Regions from separate parts of the Homo sapiens genome. Here all the other regions are linked to region 3. The links come from fine-mapping of genetic effects on gene expression. A gene starts in region 3. Each other region holds a variant in brackets. All regions are shown on one strand. Distances are from middle to middle.

What was found.
Region 1: its variant is fine-mapped to the expression of TRABD2A in whole blood (TOPMed, PIP above 0.99).
Region 2: its variant is fine-mapped to the expression of TRABD2A in whole blood (TOPMed, PIP above 0.99).

Annotation. Positions count from the first base shown.
Region 1 is chr2:84,828,339-84,836,611 of GRCh38, reverse strand. TRABD2A (TraB domain containing 2A) reads left to right here. Exons shown (of 7, transcript NM_001277053.2): 5 at 4,467-4,557. Among named protein-coding and RNA genes, the nearest start is that of TRABD2A, 49 kb to the left of the region's middle. The variant C/T (reference allele first, on the strand shown) is at 4,531.
Region 2 is chr2:84,571,466-84,579,465 of GRCh38, reverse strand. It overlaps DNAH6 (dynein axonemal heavy chain 6), which reads right to left. Exons shown (of 77, transcript NM_001370.2): 12 at 5,879-5,999; 13 at 2,058-2,209. Among named protein-coding and RNA genes, the nearest start is that of DNAH6, 59 kb to the right of the region's middle. The variant G/A (reference allele first, on the strand shown) is at 3,346.
Region 3 is chr2:84,877,595-84,885,867 of GRCh38, reverse strand. TRABD2A (TraB domain containing 2A) reads left to right here and starts at 4,784. Exons shown (of 7, transcript NM_001277053.2): 1 at 4,784-4,936. The coding sequence starts at 4,829. RefSeq lists a silencer at 4,680-4,809 and enhancers at 4,539-5,039, 5,040-5,542.

The sequences.
Region 1 (8,273 bases), 49 kb after region 3:
GAATTTAAAATTGCTTGAAAATGTCTCAAATTTGATGAAAAATATTACTCTGCACATTCAACCCATGAACTATAAGTTGTATAAAATCAAAAAGTTTCACACCAAGGCGTGTCATAGCCAAACTGTCAAAAGCCAAAGACACAGAATCTTGAAAGCAGTGAGAGCAAAGCAGACAAGGGATCCCCAATAGGATTAACAGCAGATTTCTCATCAGAAGCCATGCAAGCCAGAAGGCTATGGGAGACATACTCAAAATGCTGAAATAAAAGACTGTCAACAAACATTTCCACATCCAGCAAAAATCAAAAACGAAGGAGAAATCTGTTGCATGTGAGCTGAATAGAATTTGTATTCTGCTGTTGTTGGATGAAGTATTCTTTAAATGTCAATTAGATCAATTTGATTGATGATGCTCTTCAGTTCAACTATATTCCCTATCTGATAATTCCAGAATCTCTATCATGTCTGAGTCTGGGTCTGATGCTTTCATTGTTTCTTCAGATTGTGATTTTTCTTGCCTCCCAGTGTGACTTGTAATTTTTAATTGAAAGCTGGATATGATGTATTTGGCAATGGGAAGTGAGGGAAATATGTTTTTAGTGTGAGGGTTTATGTTAATCTTTCTCAGAGTTGGGCTGTTTAATGTTTTGCTGTGGTCTGAATGTTCCTTAAAACTTGTGTGTTGAAACTTAATTATTATTGTCATGGTATTAAGAGGTGGGGCCTTTGGGAAGTGATTAAGACATGAAGGCTCCACATTCATGAGTGGATTCATGCTTTTTAAAAGGACTGGAGGAAAGTAGTGTAGGCTATTTTTTTGCCCTTGTGCCTTCCACCATGTGAAGATATAGCATTAGCCCCTCCTGCCATGTAAAGACTCAGGAAGAAGGCCCTCAGCTGGACATGGTGGTGCATGCCTGTAATCCCAGCACCTTGGGAGGCCATGGCAGGAGGATCACTTGAGCTCAGGAGTTTGAGACCAGCCTGGTCAACACAGTGAGACCTCATCTCTACAAAAATTAAATAAAAATTTAGCTAGGCATAGTGATGTGTGCCTGTAGTCCCAGCTACTTGGGAAGCTGAGGTGGGAGGATCACTTGAGCCCTGGAGGTCGAGGCTGAAGTGAGCTGTGAACATGCCACTGCACTCCAGCCTGTGTGACAGAGTAAGACTCTCTGTATTAAAAAAAAAAAAGGCTCTCACTGGGCACTGAATGCCTATGCCTAGATTTTGGACTTCCCAGCCTCTAGAACTGTGAGAAATAAATTTCTATTGCTTATAAATGACCCAGTCTGTGGTATTTTGTAACAGCAACACAGACTAAGGCATGTTTGCTGTAACTCTAGGTCCCAGAGGCTTCAGTTTCCTCTAGTGACCTCTAGTTTTTCCTCTAGTATTTTTTGTCTTGTGCTTTCTTAAGAACCTTCTTAAATAGAGTCTGAGTCTTGCTGCACTTTCACATATAATCCACTGTTATTTTACTGGAGTCCTATTGTTGTGGTGCTAAAGTGAAGATACCATTTCATACTCACTAGGCTATAATAAAAAAGATGGAGAGTAAAAAGTTTTGGTGAAGACATGGAGAAATTGGCACCCTCATACATTGCTACTGGGAATTTAAAATGGTGTAGCCATTTTGGAAAACTGTTTAGCAGTTTTTAAAAATTAAACATGGGGCTACCATTTGATTCAGCATTTCAACTTCCAGATATATGCCTAGGAGAATTGAAAACATATGTCCACACGAAAATTTGTACACAGATGTTCATGGCAGCATTATTTATAATAGCCAAAAAGTGGAACCAATCCAACTATCCATCAACTGACATGGATAAATAAAAGGTGATATATACACACAAATGGAATACTATTTGGCCATAAAAAGGAAAGAGGTACTGATATATGGTACTACATGGATGAACTTTGAAAACATTATGCTAAGTGAAAACAGCCAGTCACAAAATCATATGATTATATTTATATGAAATGTCCAGAACAGGCAAATCTATAGAGACAGAAAGTATTCATAGATTAGTGGTTGCCAGGGGCTGGGGTCAAAACGATGAAAATGTTTTAAAATTAGATAGTGGTCATGATTGCATGATTTTCTGAATATACAGAAAAAATCACCGACTGGCATACGTTAAAAGGATGAATTTTATGTTATGTGAATTATATTCAAATATTAATAAAACTGTTATAGAAATATAAGGGGTTTGGCTCCCACATTATGCTCATTGAAAAGTTCTGCCACAAACAAACTGCAGTTTGTGCCCTCAGCAATGCCCGTGAGTATGTGGTAGTTTTCTTCTTCTGTAAGTCCTGTGTTTCATGTCTGGATTGGGCACCGTGTGCACATTTGTACTGTCTCAACAAATGGCTTCTTGGAACAAAGCTGTTAGCCTGGGCCTCACTCTTGAGGCACCGTAACAGTGGTGCAGACCCCAGATGAGAAAGTTAGGAAACAGAGCCAGTGGTGGTGTCCCAATGCACCACCCCGGGTCTGTGTGGATGGAAGGTGCCCAGGTGCTGGAGTGTGGGCTTCTGCTTTCCACCCCTGCCAGACTTAGGTGAGCTCCCAAAAACTTCCCGTATGTCCCGTGGCAGGGGTAATGGGGCGCTGGGGAGAGGGGAAAGGTCGACTGGGTTCTGGGCTGGTGGGAGGCTGGGGCACAGCTTGGTCTGAGCAGTTCGGTGGGTGGGCCCTCGTGGTGGGGGTTCTGCCAGGCAGGTGGAACAGGCAACACCAACACCTGAGCTTGCCCAGTACTCAGGGCTTGATTTGTCATACTGATGCAGGGCTAGATTGGGGCTGACAGCCCCTGGGCACTCCTGATGCCCGAAGTGCCCAGGGGCTGTGAGCCCCCATCTAGCACTGGCTCCTTCTAAGGCAAAGTTATATTCCTGTAGCTGCTTTCTCTCTGTGCCTTCTGAAGGCTAAGTTGAACAGAGGAAACTACAGAAATTGCTCCGAAACACATTACCGTGTGCTTTTAAAACTTAAAAGCTGTGTGGTTAGCAAACTTTTAATTGCAAAATGAGGATAACTGAAAATGGAAAGTACTGGAGTTTTAAAATCAAGCAGCGACTTTTGTCATGGGGATCTGGATATAAAATGCGAAGATTAGAAATGGAAATCACCTTTGCAGTAGAAGAAAAATTGAAGTCAGAAGTGCTAAGTGGAAACTATAATCACTTGTTCTAAATTGCCAGTTCCTTATTTGCAAATGAATAACCTAGGATCAGTGGTGAAAGACATGACTTTTTTTCTTATTTAGGTGTCGATCTTAAATCAGCTCATGCTGATTTTTGGCTCCTGTTTGCCAGGGTTACTTCTCCAGTGGCCTCCTCTCCTACCCCACATTTCTAGGTTACAGCTATCGCCCCTGCACTGGCAGCTGTCTAGGCTGGTCTAGGCTGTGGGGAGGAGAGGGGAGGATGGGAGGGAATGGTTTTGCCAAACTTCCCTTTCTGAGCCCCTGCTGACCCATGAACACCCCCTTTGATGCATGAGGGTGAAAATGAAAGCAGGAACCATGGGCCTTCTGCTTCCTTCTCGGGGCCTATTTGCTGTACTGCCGCAGGCTCCCAGGGTTCCCTGGTTGTGACTCCTGAGACTACAGTGGGTTTGTCCTATGCAGAAACCTCCAAGAATGACAGATCTTAGATTAGGTTGCCTTTACTTTTTCTAGAAAGTGGTGATTGGGAAGTAGCCATTCCTTCCGTCCCACCAGCCTCCCTGTTTTTTCAGAGAGCACAATTGCATTCCATCCTGTAGTTGGGAATTCCCCCCCCTCCTTTTTTTTTTAATTGAGACAGAGTCTTGCTCTGTCACCCAGGCTGGAATGCAGTGGCATGATCTCGGCTCACTGCAACCTCTGCCTCCCGGGTTCAAGTGATTCTCCTGCCTCAGCCTCTCAAGTAGCTGGGATTACAGGTGCCTGCCACCATGCCCGGCTAATTTTTGTATTTTTAGTAGAGATGGGGTTTAACCATGTTGGCCAGGTGGGTCTTGAACTCCTGACTTCAGGTGATCCACCCGCCTCGGCCTCCCAAAGTGCTGGGATTACAGGTGTGAGCCACTGTGCTCAGCTTGAATTCTTGTATTTTCTCCAGACCAGTGTCCTCACCTTTCAGGATCCTGCTCACATATCACCTCTTCTGGGAGGTCTTACCAGGTTGCAGTTTGATGTCCAGGCTATCCCCTTAGCTTTGTGACTTCAGGTAACTTGCTGCATTGTTCTGATCTTCAGTGTCATTGTCTCTGAAATGCTACTGATGCTGCCCTGCCTGCCTTGCAGGACTGTTGGCAGGCCTGATTCCAGAAGCTCTCTAGAACTGTACTGTGCTGGACAGATAGGCAGGGGGCTTGGCAGGGTAATTTCTTGGTTCTAGGGTGTGTGTTTGGGGAGTATGTTTGGTGGTCCTGAGAGCTGCAGCATTTCAGGTTGTTTTTCTCACTGCAGGTCATTTCATGGGCAACAACACAGTGCTGGATGTTTTGCGGCGTGAAGGCTATGAGGTAGAACA[C/T]GCCCCTGCTGGACGACCCATCCACAAGTAACCGTCCTGTGCTTCTATCTTGGCTGGGGAGCTGAGACCCTCATGGGGCTGCCTGGGCACCAGGGTGGGCTGCTATCTTGAGGAGCTCCAGAGAACCCCTGCCTCGTCATTTCCCCCACACTTGACCTTACATGGACATTTGGCACCAGCTCAGCTGGCTCTGTGTGGCTGGGGCTGTGTCAGACGTGGTTGGCAGGATGGACACTTTGGGCTGCAGGGGCCACACTGGCGTTTTCCTCAGTGGTGTTTGGCAAGCGGGGGAAGGTGAAGGGAAGGTTGCCCAGGGGTTGAGGGGTAGGGGAAAGGAGGAGTAATTAGGCTTAATGCCCAGTGTCCTTTGCCCTAGGTGTTTTGGAAGTTTTCGGGAGGCAAAATCGGGCCATGACAGTGGTAAACAGGCCAGAGGGGTTAGGGGTGCAGGGAGTGCATGTCTCACCCTTCTCAGGGGCAGGAGAAAGCACCTTTTCTCTGAGCTGTTTCCTCCTCCCTAGGTTTATTTCTCTCTCTTTTTTTTTTTTGGCCAAACTGCCCTCTGCCCTTTCAGACCTTTCTGTAAAGAACTCAGGAGGCCCAGCCCCCAGCCCTCAGCAATGCTGTCCACCCACTGGCCTCCCAACTGGTCGTCCATCCTGGTGGGCCCCAGGTGTCCTTCCCCTTCCCCTGTAGTAGTCTGTTTGGGCTGTCATAACAACAACCACAGACTGAGTGATTTAATCAACAGAAATGCATTTCTCACAGTTCTGGAGGCTGAAAGTCCCAGATCAAGGTGTCAACGGGACTGGTTTCTCTTGGGACCTCTTTGTTTGGCTTGTAGATGGCCGCCTTCTCTTCCTGCCGGCACATGGCATTTTTTTTTTCTGTAAGCGAGCATCCCTGGCCTCTCTTCTACTAAGGACACTAGTCCTATTGGACTAGGGCCCTCATGTGAACTGAATCACCTCTTTAAAGGCCCTAACTCCAAATGGTCACATTCTGAGGTACTGGGGATGGGGCTTCAACATGTGAATGTGGGGGGCACACATCAGCCCCTAATATCCCCTCCATTCCTCTGGCCCCCACTGCCTCCCGATCTGTGGTCAGCAGCCCCCTCTCCTGGCAGAGGTCTCAGCTGTAGCGAGAGAGTTCCAGGATGCAAATGCCCATCCCCTGGCAGAGGATCCAGCAGTTGTGTCTGCCCGAAGGCCGCCCATCTCCAGCTGCCCTCTTTCTCCTCAGAAGGCCCCCCTTCACTGCACCTTGTCTCCCTGTTCCCCCTCACCCCAGAGGCTCCTGCCAGTCTCCCTTCAGGCGGGAAATCCTGGATACATCCTGGACTTCTCTCATCCCCACCTGTCTTCATGCCCTGTATTCAGTATGTCAATACTGACCGCCCTTCACAGAGCACTTTCTAGTTTACAGAAGCGCTGATGTGAGACTGCTCATTTTCCTTCTCCACCAGGCTTTTGGCTTCCTCCACTAAAGACTCGCTGGGATTTGTCCTTCTCCATTTCCATGGCCACCGCCCCCTTCCAGGCCCTTCTCCCTCTGGTTCACTCTTCGCCCTTCTGTGGGACTATTCTTTCCAGTGTCCTATATTCAAACCCTCCGTGGTTTCATGTTGTTCTTTTTCAAGGTCATTGTCTTCACGCGGAGGTCTTGGCACTCAGACCCTACCCTTCCAGCATGGATCTGCTGCTTGCTTCAGAAGAGCCTCCATCCCGTCCCCGCCTCTCCTTTACTGACGCTACTTCCCCCTTCTGAGGAGCCCTCCTCTCCTCCCCTTGACCGGGAGGATCCCGCCCCTGCCTGAGTCAGCTCTGTTGCAGGCTCACGTCTCCTGCCTCTCTCCTTCCTGTTCTCCTGCAGGTCTGGAGGAGCCAGCCCTTAGGGGTTCTCTGCGCCCTGCAGGACTGTGGGTCTTTCCTCCCTCACTGGCCTCTGGTCCCTTCTCAGCTCTTCCCGCTGGGCTGACTGGCCTGGGGTTCAACGCACTGTCCTTAGGGTGCTGGAGAGGGCCCTACCTGGGGAGTGTGTACGTGTGTGTGGTGTAATGTGTGTGGAGTATGTAATGTTTGTGTTTGTGTGTGTCTGGTGTGTGGTGTGTGTGAGGGGTGTGTTGTGTGTGATGTTTGTGTGTAGGGTTTGTGTGGTGTGTATCTAGTGTGGAATATGTGTGGGGTGTATGTGTGTGTGTGTAGTGTGCATGTGTATGGTGTGTGTGTGGTGCATGTCTGGTATGTGTGTTGTTTGGTACCTGTGTGTGAGGGGTGTGTGTGGTATGTGGGGTGTGTGTGGTGTAGTGTGGATGTGTGTGGAACATGGCTGGTGTGTGCATGTGTGGGTACTGTGCATGTGTGTGGTGCATGTTTGGTGTGTGTGTTGTGTGTATGTGTGTGGGGTATGTGTGCTGCATGTCTGATGTGTGTGTTGTGTACGTGTGGGGTTTGCGTTGTGTTGTGGTGTGTGTGGTACGTGTGTTGTGTGTGTACAGTGTGGTACGTGTGGTGTGTATGGTATGTGTGGTGTGTGTATTGTGTATGTGTGTGGGGTATGTGTGGTGCATGTCTGATGTGTGAGTTGTGTATGTGTGGGGTGTGCATTGTGGTATGTGTGGTGTGTGTGGTACGTGTGTTTTGTGTGTGTGTAGTGTGTGTGGTATGTGTGGTGTGTGTGGTGTGTGTGTGTGTGTGTGTGTGTGTGTGTGTGTGTTGCTGGTTGTTCCCAGGCTCCCTAATTCTGCCTCTAACCCTGACACCTGCCCTTGGGGAAAGGAAGGTCAGGAATCCGTCTTTTTAGAAGCTCTCTAGGAGATTCCGATGCCCAGTGAAGGCTGAGAACAAGTGTTCTCACTTCCCCGGGGAGAAAAAGAGCATTTATTGGTGGATCATCAGGTGGTAGCCAGGTTTATATGGGCTCTCTGTTAATTCTCAAAACCAGCCCGCAAGGGAAGTGTTCCTTCTCATTTACTAACGAAGAAACTGTGAAAGGCCACACTATTAACCAGGACCAGGAAATAGCACAGACCCCTCCACCTCCCAAACCTTTTCTTTCTACCCTTTCTTCTCCCACCTTTTACTTCCTAGCCTCTGTCTTTGTTCGTGCAGTTTCCTCTGCCAGAGATCCTTTCCCTACCCACACTACCCCCAGTTCTCTCTATCAGAATCTGTGAGATCCAGCACAATTGCCACATCTTCCTCCATTGCTCCAGCCTGGGTTCATCCTGTGCATGACCCCAAGGAACCTATGGTTTGTGCAAGAGCTCTCTCTTTCTTCTAGAGCCTTCCGGACAAGGATCTAATTTTCAAAATTGGATTTCCAGGAGTACCTATCCTGGCATCTGGCACATGATGGGATCTCAAATAGGATTGATTATGTGTTAATATCATTGCTGGTACTGCTCACATGCATTCATTTATTCAGCCAGTGGGGGACCTGAGAGGTTTTAGGGGTGAACGTGCATACAGTGGTCCCAGGTGAAGCCATGAGGGAGGATGAGGTCTCCAAAGGAGCTCCTGTTCAGGAAGAAGGGACAGGGTCCCGGGAGGCTAAGGGCCCAGGGAAGTGGGTTGGGGAGAATGCCCACAAAGAGGGGCTGGCAAGGAGGACCAGGGCAGTGGAGGGATACCTGTTTCCTTCTTCCCCTCCTCGGCAGCCATCTGGTAGTCCTTAAGGGATGATTCTGGTCATGTGGAACTTGAATCCAGGGCAGGCTGGTGTGGCTGGGGACATGAGGG
Region 2 (8,000 bases), 310 kb after region 3:
CAGACAAATCCTAATTGGATTTGTTAAATCAGCAGGCATTGGAAGCAGCAGTGAATACGAAGAGACTTTTTTTCTCTTTAAATCACTGCTAGTTAAATGAGCCAACAGGAAGGCCAGGTTTTGAAGATCATTTCCACAGCTTACCAAAAATTTTCCCTAAATGCTCTAATATTTTGCAAGTATGCTTTCTGCTTCTTTGTCCTATGTAGTGGACATTGTGCTGCCCTGTCCAGCATCAGTCCCACTCCTTTCATGTTGGGCGCTAGCCATGCAGTTTGGGGGAATTTGATCTCTCCTTCAGAAACAAATATGCAGTCTGACTGATGACTTGGCAAATAGGAACATGGCTTTTTTGGCCAAACTGATCAGATTAAGATTTTCACGCTACTATAAAGAACTGCCCGAGACTGGGTAATTTATAAAGGAAACAAGTTTAATTGACTCACAGTTCAGCATGGCTGGGGAGGCTTCAGGAAACTTACAATCATGGCAGAAGGTGAAGGGGGAAGCAAGGCACCTTCTTCACAAGGCAGCAGGAAGAAGTATGTGAGAGTGCAGGAAAAACCACGATTTATAAAACCATCAGATCTTGTGAGAATTCACTTACTGTCAGGAGAACAGCATAGGGGAAACCACCCCCATAATCCAATCACTTTCTATCAGGTTCCTCCCTTTACACCTGGGGATTACAATTCAAGGTGGGATTTGGGTGGGCACACAAATCTAAACCATATCAAGTGTGAACCTCTGACTTTAGTTGATTCAATCAGATAAAGGCCCACACTTTTATTTATGGCTGAGAGAGACGTGTACTCAGAACCCCAGGCTTTCTCTGTCTCTCTCCATACAAACAAATAATTGGCTTGTGGAGCTTTTGACAATCACTTTACAAATGCCTTAGGATGAAGCCTGCACATAAGGAGGCTCAGGAAAGAGAAAGAAATAATTGGTTCCTTGGTAACACCACTGAGCCACTAGATCATACCTCCTTGATATCGACCCAATCTCTGGACTTTTTAGATACATATGCCAATAACTCTCCTGATTGCTTAAGCCAGCTTGAGTTCAGTTTTCTTGGGCTTACAGTAAATACATATCCAAGTATTTCTTGAGCATACAGTAGCTAAAAAGTGCTTGTTGAAATTGAATTAAATTTGCTCCAATTATATACATAATTATATATATATTTCTTTTTTTTACCAGATGAAGAAGCAAAACTCTAGAAGGAAGCCCAATGCCATACAATTAATTAATAACAGAAAATACTAGCACTCAGGTCTGCACTCTTTTTTATACAGTGCTCTATCTTCTATCATCTACCAGGGGCCAGAAAATGTTTTCTATAAGGGCCAGATAGTAAATATTTTAGATTTGCAGTCAATACAGTCTCTGTCACAACTACTAAACTTTGTCCTTGTAGGAAGAAAGCAGCCATAGATGATATGTAAACCATTGTCATGGCTGTGTTCTGATAAAACTGTATACAAAACAAGAGGCAGGCTGGGTTGGCTCTGTGGGCTATAGTTTTCCAATTCCTGTTTTATATCATTGTCTTTCTGTGGGCATTGGGAAGACACAAGTATACTCTGGCTCCAAAGGAAATTATTGTATTGGTTCTGAAACTTATTACAGAAATTTCCCTAGTTCTATAACTTACCAAAACATAATCAGACCTGTAGGGACAATTCCAGATCAGAAAATGATTTCCTAAACTTGATCTCGGTGGTCTAGAATCAACCATCACTCCCTCTAGGATATTGAGCTGTTATGGTAGTATCCTCTCTGCAGGTCTTGAAATGCTCCGACAATGGAAAAAGGAGTAGGAGCAAGAGGCCAGTGTGAGGCCTGCAGTCCCCTCCATTATCTCATCTAAAAAGCTGATTATGCTTGTGACAAAAAGACTATAGAGCTTTTCTTAGAAATTAAGGATGTCCAATAGTCTTATGTTAATTTTTATATTTGCAATACTATAAAATAAATACTAGGTTTTTGTGCAGTAGAAAAATCATAAAATAATTGTAGAGGAATAATTATTTTTTTTTCTAGTTTATAGTTACCTCTAAGCATCGCAAAGGTGATGGAATTAATTTTTCTCTTAGAAGCCTAGTATCAATGAGCAGCAATCCTACATTTCTGGTGGGTCTGAGCGCTACTGCGTCCTTGTGCTGTTTGTGATATTTTTCCAGTTGTTCACTAAAAAAGTTAATATCTACATAAAAAAATTCACATAAAGCATAAAATATACCATATTGGATTTTAAAAGATCATTACAAAATATATTAAAAATCATTGCATTGATAAATTTACACATATATGTATAATGTTATTATCTGTACTTAGAGTATCTCATGTAACTTTAAAATGCTAATTGGATTGCTTTATAGGATTTTATTCTTGTGATAAAGAAACTAATATTTTATAATGTAAATATGTCTTCTGGCTCCTATGAAGAGATGACAGATGAAAATAACTTGTAAGTGCATTAGAGAATCTAGTCTGGAATTGACTAGATTTCAGAGTTAGGTTGGTTTCAAGTTGGGATTAATCTAAATGTTCTCTCCCACATGGTGTCTCAAAGTAAAGCATTTTGAGAATATAAACAACAACAAAATTTGAAATATAAGAGATCACACATAGCTAAAATTATCTCTGTTTCTCTTCCCAACACATCTCTCTGCCATTCCTGCACCCTACATCATGGTCAAGGCCTTTGTCAATTTGCATATGCTGCAGTTGCATTTTGATAATCTTCTTGCCTCCATTTCCTCCCTCATCCAATCCATCTGGAACCAATGGAAACCTCATTATCCTTGAATATACTCTCATCATACTATCAGTCAAAAATAGCTCTCTCTCTAATGCATATACAGTTCTAAACTTCTCTGCTTGTCTTTCAAAATTCTGTACCCTCTGGGCCTCTAAAAATTTAGCTAATTTTATTTCTAATTACCTCCTACATTTGGGTCAAATTGATTTCCTTACTGTCTGCCCTTTTTCCTCCTTCCATAATCTTCCTCCACCACCCCAAAGAGAAAGGGGTGCTGTTTCCTGCCTTTATTCATGCCATCTCCTCTCCTAATTATAAGGGGTAGTTTGATATAGTATAAAGAACACACCAGAGAAAGTATTGGAAGACCTGAGCTCAGGTCTTTAACCCATGTGTGGCCTTGGGAAAGTTACTTAGTCTTTCCGAGCTTCAGCTTCCTCATAATATAAGACAGAAACAGCAATTACCTCCCTTACTCACTTCAGAAGGTTTTGATTTGTGTATTTTTGAAAGCCGACTAAATTAAGATGTTAAATGATCTGATAAGTCGTATGGTAAGGATACCCGTATAATGCTGC[G/A]CTGTTTAGTATTTTCCAAATTTATTTGAGCACCATCTTTTTTCATGGTATCATGTAATTATCCCTCAGAACAGTGCCAATGAACACAACTTTGGGAACCATTTATTTGGTCCAAAACTCTTATTTCATAGATAGAGAAATTGAGGTCATATGACTTGGCTATGGCCACATAGCCAAAAAGGAATAAAAGATTAAAGCCGATAGTTGAGAAATACGATTTCTTTCTCCTTTTTTTTTGAGACGGAGTCTTGCACTGTCGCCCAGGCTGGAGTGCAGCGGCGCGATCTCGGCTCACTGCAAGCTCCGCCTCCTGGGTTCACACCATTCTCCTGCCTCAGCCCCTGGAGTAGCTGGGACCACAGGCCCCCGCCACCACACCCGGCTAATTTTTTGTACTTTTAGTAGAGACGGGGTTTCACCATGTTAGCCAGGATGGTCTCAATCTCCTGACCTCGTGATCCCCCCGCCTCGGCCTCCCAAAGTTCTGGGATTACAGGCGTGAGCCACCGCGGAGAGGCAGTACGTAAAACGGTTAAGCAGACAAGCTTTCAAGTCAGAGAAATTAGATCTAAACTGCTCACTAGCTGTTTAATCCTGAGGTTGCCTTATCTCTATAGATCTCTGTTTTCCTTTTATAAAATGGTAATACTAATACTCTCCTCAGAATTGTGAGGATTGGATGAAATGTCTAAATATTACTTAGAACAGTATCTATCATGCTGTAAGTGCTCAGTAAAGTGTAGAAATTATTAGTAAATGCTGACATTTATAGGAACTTGGTGGTGAGATGTGGCTGCTTGTCAGGAAGCCAGAACCTATCTGCTGGTCGTTCTCTGAGGCAGGACAGGGAGCAGTCTGGCTAAAAGTTCAGTTAGACATTTATTAAGGATCTACAATATGTGCTAAGCAATGTTGTAGTCGTTTGAGGATATCAAATAACAGGTAAGGTTGATATCCAAGGGCAAAGCCCACCTCTATAACCCTCTGGCAAACAACTGGATTTAGTGGTTTAGGACGTACTGGGGGTTCCAAACAGAGGAGGAGCACAGAGGTTAGGAGTCCAGGCCAAGGTACTCCAAAGTCGCAGCCATCAGAGTGTTGGGACTGGGAGACCTGGTTCCAGGATTGGGTTTCAAAGGCAGGACTGGCAAGACAAGATAGGACTAGCTGAAGAGCAACCTGGGAGTCAGGGGACTGCATGCTGATGGGAACTTGCTGAGGGATCACAGTTATCCAACGTGAGGACTGTGGTAGCAGGAGGCTAGGAAGCCTTGGGCTCAGGATATGAGTAGAAGAGCTCAGGGATTAGAACTGGCTATTTTGATCAGGCCTCCTTCTTGTGCCAAAATTCCAGGCTCCATACCCTGCTGCCACTGTGATGCCATGACATAGCACAGGAGGCATCATGTCCTCACGTCCCTGTCGGTATGCTTCTGTTCAGCACACACTAAGTCTCCATGTGATAGTGTTGTCAAAGAACAGTGGAAGTAGGCTTGTCTAAATTTTGTTTTCTAAATTGGGGCCACATTTTGGTCTAACGACTTAGTATCTTGAAAAAAAGGAGTCAGTTTCAGATTTTTAAAATTTAAGGGACATAACAATCAGATACAATGACTGATCTTGGACTTGATCCCTGGCCAAATCATCTGGAAGCTGCTTTACTTGAGGAATTTTGAAAATGGAATAAGTTAAGATATTAAGGAATTGCTATTTCGGTGGAGGATGATACTATTTTCATTCTGTAGAAACATGTTTTAGAGATGCATATTGAATTATTTAACTTAAGAATACTTCAGCATAGTAAACAATAAGGAATTGAAAGAAAAACATAAAAACATAAAGAAAAAATTAGTGCTGGTTCATAGAGCAAAGTATCAATGTAATTGTAATTATATTTATATATAAGAAAATAAAGGAAGCTCATGAAATAAAAAAGAATATGAAAGACATGCATCATGATTTAAAATAGCAAACAAATATACTTATTTTTTATAATTTTCTGAGAACTTGCTTGCCTGAAATTGCACTTGGATATTGTAGATTATCTTCTATTGTTAAAGACAGTGAAATAAAACAGTTTTCTCCTAGGTCTTATTTCATGACTAAGAGTTGTTGATTCACACCCACCAGATCTTAATGTAGTCCCAGAAGAAAAAAGAATAAGTTCCTGAGATAGAAAAGCTTATGTAAACTTTATTTAATGGAATTGGTAGAGGTATCCATTCCTTTCAACAACTTCTCATATGCAGGCTATATACTCTTAGCACTGATACAACTTTAAACTAAATGATAAGCGATTAGGAAGGAATTGCTTTCCATAATATCCTGAAATAAAAGTAATACTGAATAAGGAGAAAGGAAAAAAGTGATTCTATAGAAAATAACCTAGAAATGAATTAACTCTTGCCTTATGTCAGGCCAACTCTTTTGGGCTACCATTTGTGTCCCCAGACACCACCAAACAGAATCCTAAAAAACAACAAATCTCAGTATCCCTATAAAAATAATTAGTAAGTACAAATGGACAAGTTACCAGGTTCCTGAAGTTTAAGAGCTTGTAAATCAAGACTTTCATTTTCCTTGAAGAATATCTGGAACTTTTCAAAGGTAGCTGCATAGATGCGGGCTGATTCAAATGCGGCCTGAATGGTTTCCTAAATGTTATAAATAAGCAGACAAATATGACCATATTTTTGTTAAGCAGAATTTAATTCAATACAACTAAACAAAGAAACAAGCAAGCACACAAACTCTATGCCCAATAGTATGTTTTGATTTGGGAAACATGAATGAAGAAAGATATATTCTTGATGTCGAGGAGTAATTGATGGATTCAAGAAGAAATTGTTATGAAATAAAAAAAATTCATCTTTAAACCTGACTTTTGAAGAATTATTCCTGTGACTGAAAGGAAACACAATTTGTTTCTGCTTCATGGTGAACTTATATATTGCTAGTAAACATATGGCAAAGAGGCAATACTTGTTTATTTTCCCAACTGCATATTTTATGTCACTGTGTTTTTAAGCAAAGGCAAACCTGTTTAGCATGCCCAGAAAATCACTTGCTTAATCTTACTATCAAATCTTTGGCATTGGCCAGTCTCTTACTCCAAAATATCCTTCATACTTTGCCATAATAAAAACTTTTTCTTCACCCCTCTTAAACTTGGTTCTAACCCATATTTCCCCACAAAGTTTTTTTAAACCAAGACAACGATTTCCAATCACTTCAGTCCCTTTAATAACTGTGTCAAGATATATTATTATATGTTCAAAGTCTATGAAAGGCAGTTAGGATTCACTTGCTGTTGGTCTTGGTCCATGTCTACTTGGCTGTGCTCCACACCTTTTCCTTGTGTTTTCTACTAAGACTTGTAAAAGTCTGCAATTTGTCCCAGGAAAACTAGAGGTGACCAATGGAATTGCACAAATCCAACACACCAATGCTAGGGAAAGTGACTCAGTTATGCCTTGTGGTAGTAGAAAATTTAATTACAAAGAATAGCACACACCCTGTATGTTTACATTTAGTTATTTGTTCATTTATTTTAATAGGCTTTTATGAATATTCCAGAATGTTTCTGCTGTTTCTTCTTTATAATAAACATTGAAAAAAAACTTTATCAAACTATGTTTCCTTTGAACGGACTAAATAGTATCTCTCATATGTCATCATGCAGGTGCTAGAAACAATATAAGGCTTGTAAATGGAAAGCCCCACCGATGTTCAAAATATGATTTCAAAACATTTTTATTTTGAAACAATGTATGATTCACAAGAGTGTTACTGGAATAGTACAAAGAACTGCATATCTCTGTCACCAAAATTCCCTAAACTTCAACAATTTATCATATTTACTTTATAAGTCTGTCTATATACACATATTATTATACTCTGAACCATTTGGGAGAAAGTTACAGACATGTGGCACATTGACCCCTAAATATTTCAGGGGTTACTTACTAAACACAAGGACATTTTCTTACATAACCACAGTATAATGGTCCAAATCAGGAAATTAACATGGATATTAATACTGCTATCTAATTACCGACCTCATACAAATTCTACCATTTGTTCCAGTAATGAATTTCATAGTAAAAGGAAAAAACATTTTTTGTTCTGGTCTACTTTTCTACCTAGGATCATGTATTGCATCTTTTCATCTTTTTGGTTTTCTTTTTTCTTTTTTTTCTTTTTGAGACAGAGTCTCTCTCTGTCACCCAGGCTGGAGTGCAGTGGTGCCATCTCGGCTTGCTGCAACCTCCACCTCTCGGGCTCAAGCAATTCTCCGTCTCAGTCTCCTGGGTAGCTGGGATTACAGGCGCCCGCCACCACGCTAATTTTTTTTTTTTTTTTTGTAATTTTAGTAGAGATGGGGTTTCACAGTCTTGGCCAGGCTGCTCTTGAACTCCTGACCTTGTGATCCGCCCACCTAGGCCTCCCAAAGTGTTGGAATTACAGGCGTGAGCCACTGCGCCTGGATGGTTTTCTTTAATGTGGGACAATATCTCAATCTTTCTTTGCCTTGCATGACCTTCACATTTTTTAAAGGTATCTCAGTTGTGTGTATATGTGCATGTGTGTGTTTTATATTTCCTCATGATTAGACTCAGATTTAAATTTTTGGCAGTAATGCTACATAAGTGATG
Region 3 (8,273 bases):
CCTGGGCTCAAGCCATCTTTCTGCCTTGGCCTCCCAGAGTGCTATGATTACAGGTATGAGCCACCATACTTGGCACAAATTTCCTCTTTTTATAAGGACACCAGTCAGATTGGATTAGGGCCCATCCTTACAGCCTAATTTTAACTTAATCATCGATTTAAAGACTTTATCTTCAAATACAGTCACATTCTGAAGCACTAGGGGTTAGGGGATTAATGTATGAATTTTGGGGGATCTTAATTTATCCCCAAATAGAATCTTAACGTATCTCATCTATGAGGTGGGAGAAATGAATGGAGGTGAAAACTGGCCTTGGTAAAGGAGCAGCCATCACTCCTTAGTCAGAAGAGGCGGATGACTGGACACCCTTTCTTGTGACTTGGCCAATGTTCATGTTTTGTCTGTGTTGAGATGTGATTATGGAGGGGTTTTGCTTTCATCTTCATTCATCACAGAGTGGCCTTGTCTGATGTTGATGCTCTGTGAAGTTGTTTATGTTCAACAGGAGAACACCATGGCTTAGCTGTGAGTGCCAGGCCAGCTTGTAGCAACACCAAGGCCTGACTGATAAAACCAGACCAGTTCCCAGCTGTCCAGGGATGTTTTCTCTTTTTCACAATCTGGTACAAGCAGTGTGCTGCAAAGCAAATGCAGCTTTGGCATACTTGCCACTCTTTCCTACTTAGAAATTCTTGTGCCAACACTGGGTGGGCGAGGGAGTGTGGCAACATTCAGCCCCTTTCCAAGAATGCACGGAGCCTGCACACCTGGCAGTGGAGGGAGTAGGTGTTTCCACACCTCCATCAACTTAGGTCTTCAACTGCTCACCTTGAGGACGGACACAGCCTGCTGGCCGAGCACCATGCTGGAACTCCTGGGAATGTGCTTAGCATCCCACTTCCCCTGGTGTATTAGTTATCTATTGCTGCTGCAACAAATTACCACAAACCTGGTGGCTTAAAACAGCACACATTTATTTTCCCAGTTGCTTTGGATCAGGAGTGTAGACAGAGCTTAATTGAGTCCTCTGCTTAGGGTCTCACAAGGCTACAGTCAGGGTGTTGTTGGCTAGGACTGGATTTTCATTGGAGGCTCAACTGGAGAGGGATCTGCTCCTGAGCTCTCTTAGGTTGTTGGCAGAATTCATGTCTTCATGAATTCTGTAGGTCTCATGGCAACTTGCTTAGCAATGGAGAGAGAGATTTTCACTGCTTCTGAACCTTCCCCTAGTCCTTTCTCTTTCCCCTTTCATGTATGGTTGATATTCTTGGCAACTCTCCCATATTAGTCCATTTTGTGCTGCTATAGAAGAATAGCACAGACTGGGTCATTTATAAGTAACAGAATGCATTTCCTTACAGTTCTGGAGGCTGGGAAAGATAGCAATGGAGAGAGAGACTTTAGCAAGACTAGCAGTACATGTTTATGTAGTCATGTACAAGTAATCACAGCACTGCCCATGACCTTTGCCGTATTTCATTGTTAGAAGCAAGTCTCAGGTTCTGGTTACAATAAAGGACAGGGTATGAAACATAAGTGTGAATATCAGGAGGCAGAATCAAGGGGAACTGCCACCACACCTCTGATGTCCCGATCACCTCTGGAAATCTGTGGATGACTGCAGGTCAGCCAAGCCAGGTAGAAAAAGGCAGGGTGAAGGCACAGAGTGTTGCTGAAGCCATAGCAAATCCTCTGCATACTCTGAAAACTTTATTTTTGAGGGTAAATCTGATTTTGGGGAAAGAGCAAAAAGGTATCAGCAGTATAATTTTCTCAGGTACTGCTATGAAGGGGACAAGCCTCACAGGTTTGTGTAAATTCAGAAAGTCATTACTAGGGGCACAAAAGAAGCACTTAAGAGTAGATGGACCTAAGCGGATGCTATACTTTGAAGGTGTCCTCCAAAAGCATATGTTGGAAACTTAATCCCTAATGCAACAGTGTTGGGAGCTGGGACATCATGGGAGGGCTTTACCCTCATGACCTCATGAATGGCTTGAGGATGACTTTAGCTCTCAATCTCGATTTTTCTCTCTTTCTCACTCTCTTGTGCTCTCACCTTCCACAGTGGGATGATGCAGTAAGGAGGCCCTTGCCAGATGCTAGGCACCTTGATCTCAGATTTTCCAGCCTCCAGAACTGTAAGGAAATACATTTCTGTTCTTTATAAATGACCCAGTCTGTGGTATTCTTCTATAGCAGCACAAAATGGACTAATATGGGAGGGTTGCCAAGGATATCAACCATACATGAAAGGGGAAAGAGAAAGGACCAGGGAAGGTTCAGAAGCAATTCAGGGCTCTGGCAATGGGCAGCCAGAGGTATGATCCAGTAACAAAGCTGAAGTTAAGGAGCTAAACTTGATACAGAAACTCGGCAGATAAGCAGAGAGGAGGACATGGGTACATTTAACATCTCCTTCCTAACCAGGAAGGGAAAGGCAGAAAGGCCTGCAACCCAGATGTCTGTATAAGGCAAGTGAGGACCAGGCCATGTCAGCCTGTCACCAGGTCTGGGTCAGCACTGTGGGATGATAGTGAACTTAGGAATGTCTGTGGAAACATGTAAGTAGAGTAGATGTGATTCTATAGAATATTCGGACACTGAGTGTCTTACAGAATAAATCCTACTTGATGATGGGTCTGGCTAAGAGAAAAAACAAAACGAAACAAAGCAACAACAGCAACAAAAAAAACACTTCATTTAAAAACTGTCAGAATCAAACAAAATTATCTAGGTACTTTGGATATGGATATGATATTTCATACTCAGTATCTGACCATATGCTGAGCCATAAAACAAGTCCCAATAAATTCAAAATAATCAAAATCATACAGAGTATGTTTTCTGTTTACAACAGAATTGGATTATAAATCTGTTGATATTGCAAAAACCACAATTACTTTTGCACCAACCTAATATTTAGGACAATTCCATAGTTTGGAAATCAATCAACCTACTTCTAAATAATCCACGGGCAAAGAAGAAAATCACCAGGGAAAGTAGATAATGAAAGATAATGAAATACAGTTTTTCAAAATTTGGGTGATGTAGCTAAAGCAGTGCTTATAGGGAAATTTATAACTTTAAATGCTTATATTACAAAAGCAAGAAGACTTAAAGTCAATGACTTAAGGTACCACCTTAAGAATCCAGAAAAAAAGCAAAGTAAACCCAAAAGTAAACAAACAGAAGGAAATAACAAAGATAAGAGCAGAAACCAACGAAATAAAAGAGAGACAAACAACAGGAGAAAATAAACAAATTCAGCCATGTTTTGTGTGGCCAGAGAGAAGCCCAGCTCAGAGAGAAGCTGGGCGGGCTTCTCTGTGGCCACACGGATTGATTCATTTGGAGTGGGAGAGATAACATGAAATAATAGGTAATTACATCCTTTTGAGTTTTTTGTTTTGTTTTGTTTTGTTTTATTTTAAATAAGAGACAGGGTCTCACTTTGTGGCCCAGGCTGGAGTGCAGTGGTTCGATCTTAGCTCAGGGCAACTTACGTTCTTGATGCTTTTTGCTTTTCCCCCTCACAACCGAAAGAGAAAGTTTTTGCCAGCAGGTGGCAGCGCTGGTGCCTGAAAACGCCAAAAAGCATCGTCCTGGGTTGGCCCGGAGACTAACGATTGCCGCCGGGCTGACACGGGGCAGTCATCTGAAGACAGGAGACAGTCAATTCCAGAAAGCAAATCCCCACTCAAACTTAGAAAAAAGCGATTTTACAAAAACATCTGAACTCTAAATGTTGGTGGAGTTAAATCTCGAAAGACTTGGCTCTTCAAAGCCAGGGGTTCTTTACGGGAAAGTTGGAAATGGGCTTCAGAAAACCTCTCCCCGCATTGTATGCAAATCTGCCCCCCCCCTTTTCTTTTTCCCTGGGAGATCGTCCAGTTATCAGATTCTCAAAATGGACAGCGACTTAAAGCAATTAAAGACCACTGCGACAAATGCTCCTGCGAACACCACTCCGAAGTTAATGGCGCAGACGTCTGGACTTTAAAAGGTGGTGGTAAAGTGCGCTCAGGCATGGGTAGGAGGTGCGGCAGGCGGGGCACAGCTACTTGCTTTCATAATTTTTTTTTCTTCCTGATGGACCAATGCTGTGAAAAATCCTCAGTGGGGTTTTGGAGCCGAAAGGGAGCGACTGCAGTTTGCAGGCTTGCTATGTGTGCCAATCAAGGTGTTTCTCATAAATTTCCTCTTTTAATCCTTGCGGCAATCCTCTGAGTTCGGTGTTAACATCCTTAATATTATTCCTAAAAATCCATTAAGAGGGCTCTTAATGGAGTGCCAGCTTTTGTGGTCCTGGATTTTCAGTGGATGCACACACTGACCATTCCCCTCTCTCTTTTACATTCAAAACTTCCGTGAGATTTCCTTTGTTTAAATGAACTTTCCTTTATAGATAGCCTTTCATTTGTTTATTTTGTCTGCCTCTTTCAATCAAGAGGCACCCTCCCCTCACAATCGGCAGCATAAGCACAGACGTAAACGCAGGAACCAATGCGATTTTAGGTTGAATTTAGGACAGCGCTGGAACTTCACTTTACCCCTCTTGCGGTCACACGAGGTGGGCGGCGGCCCCGGCAGGGTTTGGGCGGGAGAAACGCGGTTCGGGACTCCGCTGCCGCCTAGGCGCGGGGCTGACCTGCGGGGGTGGGGTGGGGGGAGGGAGGTCGAGGCCCGGCCCCACGTGGCCGCTGCTGCCGGGCTCACCCCAGCCCCGCCCGGAGGCGCCCCGCGGCCCCGGCTAGCCAGGGCGGGCGGCCACCTCTGCCCTACTCCTTCCCTCCGCGTTCCGGGCCTCGGAGCCGCCTTGAGGAGGATGAGTCCCTGGAGCTGGTTCCTGCTGCAGACCCTCTGCCTCCTGCCCACGGGCGCAGCTTCGCGGCGCGGGGCGCCCGGCACCGCCAACTGCGAGCTCAAGCCCCAAGTAAGGCGCGCGTCGGGTGCTGGAGAGCCGGCCTCTCTGCACCTCCTTGGGATGGTTTCCCTCCGAACCCCGCGAAGCAGCGCTTTCGGACCCCGAGCCGACTTCCGCGGCTGGGCTTTCACCTAGCACCGCGGCGCTCCTTGCTCGCTCTCCTCTCCGTGCCCTCGGGTTCCCCTTTCCCGCGGGGGCGCAGCCCGCAGGCTCCAAGCGACTCAGTGCCCTGGCCTTTGCCCTCCGCCAGCCCAAGGGCGTCCGAGAGAGCCTCTGGGGTCTCGCCAGCCATTTTCGCGAGCTTTCGGGGGACGGATCCGCCAGGGAGTACCGGACCAGGAACTTGGGCACATTTATTTGAAGTTTCTTCTTCCCTCTCTTCCTTAAGAGTTTAATTTCACCTGCTCTTATCAAAATATTAACAGCGCCCTGAAGCTGCTTGGCTTAACCTTCATATGTTCAGTGCCTGAGTTAGAAGGGACTTTAGGGAGTTGAAGCCATTTCCCTTGTTTTTACCGATCTGGGAAACTGACACTCAGCGGGGGACCTGTGTGCTCCAGGTCACAGAGTGCGTTCGCGGAGTGACCACTGTCCGAGCCTTGCGTGTCCAGCCGGGCGCTTTAGATGTTCGCATCAACGTTTTGTGGGTGAGGGAAACCCAGGCAAGGGAGGCTCAGTGACCTGCCCGAGTCAACACAGCTCTATAGCGGACAGGTCTTGCGTCTCCGAGGCTGGACCTCTTTCGAGATGAATATTTCCTTCTCTGATCAGTTTTCCTACACTCAGAATTTTCTGTGGTTCTCGAGTCCCTCTCTTCTGAGTGCGGCATAGGTTGAATTTCGCGCATTTGTTCCGGTGGGTTTGATATCTGTGCGTCCCTGGCTCTGGAGAGGGCCATGCCAGGCTTATCCTTCTGGTGCGCCCGCGACGCGGGGGTGGGGGGGGTTGGGGGTGGGTTGAGGGAGTGGGGGCTGGAATTTAGAGGCCCACCTTTGATGACACCTGCGCAGCTCCCCGGTCTGCCTCCACCCCTGGCCATTCGCAATTTTATTCCTCATCCCAACTGCAGCAAAGCAGAGGACGGCCAAATAGAGCCGATCCTGGAGCTCCGGGCTGGGAAGACGCACGGTGTTCGCCTCTGTAAGGCGTCGCGGGGCTGCGGACGGCCCTCTACCAAGGCAGGAGGCGCGGCAGCTGGAGAGGGGAGTCTGCACCAGGCATGGTTTCAAACTCTGTTGCGGTGTGGCCGCTTCATGCTTGTTAGACAAGGCAGGAGTCCATCTCCTCACAAGAAAGCACATTGCCTTTCACTTCTGCAAAACCTATTACCGACTGGTAATTATGACGAGTGAGTCTGGATAAGATCTCTCTCCTTTAGAATCTGTCTTTATGAGTCCTTTATTCCATCGTCCTACCTTTTGGTCTCAGGACTCCTTTACGTTACAAAAAATTATCAAAGAAGCCCGGCATGGTAGCTCACTCCTGTAATCCCAGCACTTTGGGAGGCCAAGGCGGTGGATCACTTGAGCCCAGGAGTTGCAGACCAGCCTGGCCAACATGGCGAGACCCTTGTCTCTACAAAAAAATAAAAAAAATTACCAGCGTGGGGACATGTGCCTGCAGTCCCAGCTACTCCAGAGACTGAGGTGGAAGGAAACCTTGAGCCTGGGAGTGGAGGCCAGTGAGGTGTGATTGTGCCACTGCACTCCAGCTTGGGTGAAAGAGCGAGACCCTATATCCAAAAAAAAAAAAAAAAAAGTATTGAAAACCTCAAAGACTTTTACTTTATGTGAATTAATGGAGATAGTAGTAAAACACAACATAGCACACATTCCATTAGCCATCAGAGCAGTGACCTCATCACACACATGTAGCCTCCAGAAAATTCTACAGTACCTTGTGAGAAAATGAGGGTGAAAGGAAAATATCTTAGTTTTATAAAAACAGTTTTGACCTTATAGACTCCCTGAAAGGCTCTTGGGGACACCCACAGGTCCCTGGACCATACTTTGAGAATTGCTGTTCTATTCTGTGGGCAAACTCTGTCTTACCCCCTGCGGAATTGGGAAGGCCAATCAGCGGCACACATGCTGTATGTCTGACCCACATGCTGTAAGGGCATTGTGGTTGGGTTCCTCAGTGGGTTGGGGTCTTGAGATTCTAGAGTGGAAGTCCTGGGATCCAGCCTCCAATCCAGTGCAGCAGCCCCTATAGGATTCTGCAGGACTGTAGCCTTGAGAGCTGGTTTGGTTTTCATGGTTGGTTAATCATTAGAGAGGTCTTCTGAGCCCAAATTGGCCCCTAGACACTGCAGGGTTTACCCTGAGCACCACGCAGGTTGAGTCTCTTTCTTGTCAAACAGAACTCTTAGTGTTCTTTCCTATTCCTGCCTGCTGCCTTTTTTTTTTTTTTGAGACAGAGTCTTGCTCTATCTGTCACCCAGGCTAGAGTGCAGTGATGCTACATTGGCTCACTGCAACCTCTGCCTCCAGGGTTCAAGTGATTCTCCTGCCTCAGCCTCCTGAGCAGCTGGGATTACAGGCGCCCACCACCAAGCCCGGCTAATTTTTGTATTTTTAGTAGAGATGGGGTTCCACTATCTTGAGCAGGCTGGTCTCGAACTCCTGACCTCATGATCCACCCGCCTCAGCCTCCCAAAGTGCTGGGATTATAGGCGTGAGCCACCGTGTCCAGCCTGATGCCTTTTATACTTGCTCTTTCTTCCCCCTGGGAAATTCTCCCCTCATTTATCCACAGGCTTGCTCCCTTACCTCCATCTGGCTTTGGCTCAAGCGTCTCTCAATGAGTTTCTTCCTGATTACTCTCGTAAAGGTGACATCAACTGCTGCCACCACTACCATCTGCCTTCCCTGCTTTATTTTTATTTATAGCACTTAATCACCATCTGATAAAAATTTTTGTTTATTGCTGCCCCTTCCCCTATGTCATCTTCATAAGGGTAGGGATTTTTGTCTGTTTTGTTTGCTTCTGCATCCCCAGTATCCAGAAGAGTGCCTTGCCATAGCAGATGCTCAAAAAATATTTGTTGAATGAAAAGGATAATGTAAAGCCAGCTTCATTGTGGCTGGTCTGCTGAAGAGTAATCTTGGAAAAGTGCAGTTATTGCAGGTCCAGGGATGCTAGGATGGGAGGAGCTGAGGGTGTGCTGGGTGTTACGGAGTTAGCTTGCAATATGCAGTTGTCATTGTGCCTTGTTCTTTTTCACTGGATGGACTACACAGGTGTCTGTTAAAATCTCAGTTTGATTCAGAAGCTTGTAGCTTCTGTGTCTCAGTCACCCATGGCCATGTTTTCTCTCTCTCTTTTTTCTTTTTTGAGACACAGT